Regions from separate parts of the Homo sapiens genome. Here region 2 is linked to region 1. The links come from fine-mapping of genetic effects on gene expression. A gene starts in region 1. The other region holds a variant in brackets. All regions are shown on one strand. Distances are between the middles of the regions.

Region 1 (2,900 bases):
AAGCCAGAGAATGGGTCATCAATGTCCATGCCTTCCTCCCCGTTCCGCTGCCCAAAAAAGGTGTCAAAGGGATTTCTGCCACCGAAGAACTCAGCAAACATGGCATGAGGGTCTCCATGGAATGTGTAGCTGAAAGAGGTACCATTGGCACCACCGCCGCTACCGCCACTGGGGCCACTCCCCTTTAGGCCTGAAAAGCAGATTTAGAAGCAGTCAGATGGCTGAACAGCAGACTCTCTCTCGAGCTTCCCTTACAGGGGGAAACAGCTTGGAAGCCATGGGGGAGGAACTTTTTTGTCTGTCAGGGGAGAGCAAGGAAGAACCCCAAGTTTCTACCTCTCACTGCCAACAGCAGAGACGCCCCCCTACCAACAGTATTTCCGCGTAGCCTGACAGTGGAAAAGGACTCATGCGGTTAGGTGTTCACCTCCAGGTGCCACCTAGGCCCTGCCACTCCTGGACTGACCCATCCTCCTGGCAACATCACCAAGAGATGGCTAAAGACACATGGTCCAGGGTCGGCTTTCGGTAAGTGTTTACTCTCAACGTTTTAGGGCTAATGGTGCGTAGGAAGAGAAGAAAAAAAAAAACAAAAATAAATAGGGAGTTTTTAAATCCTCACACATTAGCATTCACTGCCACCATCCTTGCACAAAAAGTCAGCTCCAGATCAAGCCCAGAAGCCAGCCTGAATCATCAACGGGCACAGGAACAAAAAGCCCTGCTCTCCTTACCCTCCGAGGCGGCCCCGCTCTCCGGACCTGGGCGGCCGCTGCCTCCTGCGTGCCCTGCCGGGGCCAGGTCATCACTTCCCGGGAATTATCCCAACCCAGCCCCCAAGCCCACGAACGGGGTCGGCTCCTGCATTCACAACCCCTCGCCCCGCAGCTGAGCCGGAGGCGCCGCCCCGCGGACCCCGGCGGCCGAGCCCAGGTGAGCCCGGGTCCGCAGCGGGCTCCGCCGCGCCGTCCCCGTCGTCACCCCCGGCTCCCCCACCCCCATGCACCGCACCCCGGGGCTGCTCGGGGCCGCGGGAGGAGGCGCCCGGGGAGGGGCAGCCCCAGACATGCTAGAAGCTTCTGGCCGAGCGGCTGGGCCAAGGCTCCTCCTCCCACCGCGCGGCCGCCAATCCGAGGGCGGAGGCCCGCGAGGCCGGAGGGCGGGGCAGCTCGGCCCCACGGCCCGGGGCGTCCTTCCCGGGGGGCCGCCGAGAGGGGCCAGCGTGCCTCAGTTTCCCTGTCTGTCAAAAGGCGGGGCCGCGCCCCTGGCCGCGAGCACACACCTTCCTCCCCGTAGCGGTCGAAGATCTCGCGCTTGCGCGGGTCGCTGAGCACGTCGTAGGCCTCAGCGATCTCCTTGAACTTCTCCTCGGCGCCGGGCTCCTTGTTCTTGTCCGGGTGGTAGCGCAGCGCCTGGCGGCGGTAGGCCCGCTTGATCTCCTCGTCCGACGCGCCGCGGGCCAGGCCCAACGTCTGGTAGTAGTCTTTACCCATGACCCCCTCCTGCGGCCCGCCGACCCGCTGTCGCCGTCCCCCGGCTCCGCCGCCGACCAGTCCCGGACTCTATATACCCGTCCGGCGGAAGCTTCCAGAGCCCGCCAGCCCCCTCCAGAACCTTCCGCCCCGCCCGCCCCCGCGGCGCCGGCCAATCGCCGCCGCCCTTTCAGCGACACGCGACATCCGGGGCGGGGCCTCGCCGTCAACGGCCGCCCGCGCGGGGCCACGCCCCCTCCCGCTCCGCCCTCGGCAACACCTCCCCGCGGCGCGCGCGCACAGGTCGGAGGAGGCCCCGCCCACCTTTCGGGACGAGCCAATCGCGACCTTCTTTCCCTCTCTACGCGGCCCCAGCTACCCTGCGTCCCGCCCTCCGCCTGGGTCAGTAGGTCGGGACCCACAGCGAACTTGCTGTTCCAGGAAGGGGTGGGGCCTGGGACTACCCAGTCCTTTCCCCGGGAGGCGATGAACCTGCTCGCCCTTGTCTCGTGGGGCCTGCGGTGGGCTCCCGCCCGGTGACGCCGGACGAACTACCTAACCTGTGTCTGCCTAACCCAGGGGCCCCCTTCTATCTACAACATGGCAATAAGAGAACCTATCAGGCCGGGCGCGGAGCCTCATGCCTGTAATCCCATCACTTCCTGAGGCCAAGACAGGAGGATCTCTTGAGCCTAGGAGTTGGAGACCAGCCTAGGCAACATAAGGAGACTCCGTTTCTATTTAAGATTAACAAACAGGCCGGGCGCGGTGGCTCACGCCTGTAATCCCAGCATTTTGGGAGGCCGAGGCGGGCGGATCACTTGAGGTCAGGAGTTCGAGACCAGCCTGGCCAACATGGTGAAACCCCATCTCTGCTAAAAATATAAAAATTACCCGGGCGTTGGTGGCACGAACCTGTAATCCCAGCTACTCAGGAGATTGAGGCCTGAGAATAGCTTGAATCGGGGAGGCGGAGGTTGCAGTGAGCCGAGATCCGGCCGTTGCACTCCAGCCTCGGCAACAGAGCGAGACTCCGTCTCATAAATAAATAAAATAAGTAAAATAAAGTAAAATGAACAAAAAACCCACCAGCGCTATTCTCCCAACCGTGGGGAGAAGGATTTTGGGACGGAAGACTGCCTCTGTTCTCACCTCCTAAAGCAAGGTGAGGATCTGGACGGAAGCGCATCTCCCAAGGTCCTCCCAGTCCCGCCTTCTTCCCTTTACTGCCCTCTCAAGATCACTTGCCGCTAAATTTGAAATTTATCTTGTCTCTTGGCTTTCAATGTGTCTTCCCTCCCAGTCTGACATCGCCACCTGGGCAGGGGCCAGGTCCTGTCTGCACTGGGTCCCCAGTGCCTGGAACGCAGTGAGAACCTCATAAATATTCCCCGTTCTTACACACGTGCTTCTTTTTCTTCCCCAACT
Region 2 (2,900 bases), 20 kb after region 1:
TGAGGTGGAGGAGGTGGTTCCTGAGGATGAGGAGGTAGGGCTGAGAAAGAAGAGGCGGGGCCGGGGGGGAAGGGGAGGCCGAGGGGGAGGAGGTGGGGCTCAGGAGGAGGAGGCGGGGCAAGAAGGAAGCGGCGGGCCTGGATGGGGGAGGCGGGACCAGGGAGGGGGAGGCGGGACCAGGGAGGGGGAGGCGGGACCGAGTAACAAGAAGGTGGGACGGGATGAGTGGTGGGCTTTGGTGTGTGCCAGGTGGAGTAGCTGTTTCAGCCGCACCCAGGTGGATTTAGAGGCTCCACCAGCTGGGCCCAGCAAAGCCTTCTGGACTAACTGGTTCCTGAGAACAGAGGAGGGTTGACAGCCTTGAGTGAGGGCGGTGCTTGGAAAGGCCTTGCGACTCTGATAAGGTGGTTGGGTTTGGTCGGGAATCCTGCACTTTCATTGACAAGCCTGGCTGCGTGAGAAAGGCCAGAGACCTTGAGCTAGTTGGTCAAGTTCAGGCTGGGTCTTAACACCTTCTTGCTGATACTGATAGTGGCAGCTGAGAATGTTTTAATACCTGGGACATTTCCTGCGGCAGCCAGAATATAGTAATCTTCCTAGTAAATTACGGTGAATATAGTGCTTAATTATCAGTGTTTTTTTTTTTTTTTTTTTGAGACGAAGTCTCGCTCTTGTCCCCTAGGCTGGGGTGCAATGGCGTGATCTCGGCTCGCTGCACCTCCGCCTCCCGGGTTCAGGCGATTCTCCTGCCTTAGTCTCCCGAGTAGCTGGGATTACAGGTGCCCACCACCACACTTGGCTAGTTTTTGTATTTTTAGTAGAGATGGGGTTTCACCATGTTGGCCAGGCTGGTCTGAAACTCTTGACCTCAGGTGATCCGCCCAACTTGGCCTCCCAAAGTGTTGGGATTACAGGCGTGAGCCACTGCGCCGGCAGTGTGAGTGCTTCTTATCTAGTAACATATCTAAATCGTGTACTAAACATAAGACGTAGATGCTGTTCTTATCTCTACTTGACTGATGGAGAAACTGAGGCACAGAAAGTGAAGCGACTTGTCCACAGCTAGTGGCTAGCAGAGCTGGGATTCTTCTAGAACCAGAGTGGGCTTTGCTGTGGGTCGTGCACTGGGGAAAGAATCAAGTGTGTGGTGGTGGTGAAGGACTTGGAGGCCACCCACTCTGTCCTTGGGACAGTGACTTAACCTAAGCTTCAGTTTTGTCACCCTGTGAGGCCAGGATAACGACACCTGGGGGCCTGTGGGGGAGTGTGAAGTGCTCAGCATGCTTCGCGGCCCACAGGCAGGGTAAAAATCCTTAAGCGGAGAGGGACCCACGTTAGGCAGGTAAGGACAGATCAGCATCCCCAGGGCTGCCTGAGATGCTTTTGGCACCTGACCTCTTTGGAAGGCCTCAAAACTCTTTTTTTT[CT/C]TTTTTTTTTTTTTTGAGATAGAGTCTTCCTCTGTCACCAGGCTGGAGTGCAGTGGCGTAATCTTGGCTCACTGCAACCTCTGCCTCCTGGGTTCAAGTGATTGTCCTGCCTCAGCCTCCCGAGTAGCTGGGATTACAGGCACGTGCCACCATGCCTGGCTAATTTTTGTATTTTTAGTAGAGACGGGGTTTCAGCATCTTGGCCAGGCTGGTCTTGAACTCCTGACCTCGTGATCCACCCGCCTCAGCCTCCCAAAGTGCTGGGATTATAGGCATGAGCCACCACGCCTGGCTGAGAAAAGCTTCAAAACTTAATGAAGAAGGTCCACCAGGCGCCAGGAGACAGACTGATGTCAAATCATATGCCCAGAAGGTGGAGGAAGAAGCCCAGATGCCAGTGCCTCAGTTTTGATATAATGTCACACACCATGCAAGTCACATTTTTTTTTTTTTTTGAGACAGAGTCTCGCTCCGTCACCCAGGCTGGAGTTCAGTGGCTCCATCTCGGCTCACTGCAATCTCCGCCTCCCGGGTTCATGCGATTCTCCTGCCTCAGCCTCCTGAGTAGCTGGGACTACAGGCGCCCACCACCACGCCCGGCTAATTTTTTTTTTTTTTTTTTTTTTTTTTTGTATTTTTAGTAGAGACGAAGTTTTACCGTGTTAGCCAGGATGGTCTCGATCTCCTGACTTCGTGATCCACCTGCCTCGGCCTCCCAAAGTACTGGGATTACAGGCGTGAGCCACCACACCTGGCTGCAAGTCACATTTTGAGATGATCAGCTCTTTCCTTCTTCATGGGAAGACCCTTGGGGAAGTCACACCACACTCAGAGCCCACTTTTTAACCTGTTGTGACAAAGAATCATCCCAGGAAGTGGAGGCTAGAAGACAGTCTGGCCACCAGGTGCCTGTCACAGCTGCCTCACCTAGGAGCACACTGCTTCTGTTCCTGCTCCCTCCTAGCTGACTGTTCCCCACCGAGCCACAGGCAGAAGGCCTTTTTGCCTGTAAGTGGGAGGATCTTAGTGTGCCATGGCTCAGAACCTTCCCTCAGAGGCTTGTCATCTGTCCCCTGCTTTCCTCAGTTGTTACTATGCTACTGTCTTTCACAGATACCCAAAACCACGTTCCTGCCCTAAGCACATGCTATTCCCTCGGCCCTGGATGCCCTTCCCTCTGCTTTCCTCATGCCTGGCCCTTCGTGTTACCGAGCGCTCAGCTTCCATGTCCCCCAGAGAGACCTTCCTTGGCCATCCAATCTAAAGTCCAACCCCTTGCCTGTCACCCTGGCACCCCACTCATCTCCTTCGCAGCCCATCTGGGCTTGGGTTGTGTTTTCTTTCTTTTTTTTTTTTTTTCTGAGACGGAGTCCTGCCCTGTTGCCCAGGCTGGAGTGCAGTGGTGGGATTTTGGCTCACTGCAACCTCCACCTCCCGGGTTCAAGTGATTCTCCTGCCTCAGCCTCCTGAGTA

What was found. PIP is the estimated chance that this variant, and not a neighbour inherited with it, causes the effect.
Region 2: its variant is fine-mapped to the expression of DNAJB1 in whole blood (INTERVAL, PIP above 0.99).

Annotation. Positions count from the first base shown.
Region 1 is chr19:14,516,857-14,519,756 of GRCh38, forward strand. It overlaps DNAJB1 (DnaJ heat shock protein family (Hsp40) member B1), which reads right to left and starts at 1,541. Exons shown (of 3, transcript NM_006145.3): 1 at 1,283-1,541; 2 at 1-190. The coding sequence starts at 1,493. RefSeq lists silencers at 823-1,392, 1,603-1,922 and an enhancer at 2,835-2,900.
Region 2 is chr19:14,537,110-14,540,009 of GRCh38, forward strand. All of the region lies in intron 1 of TECR (trans-2,3-enoyl-CoA reductase), which reads left to right. It also overlaps a transcript of DNAJB1 not described here. Among named protein-coding and RNA genes, the nearest start is that of TECR, 9.0 kb to the left of the region's middle. The variant CT/C (reference allele first, on the strand shown) is at 1,427.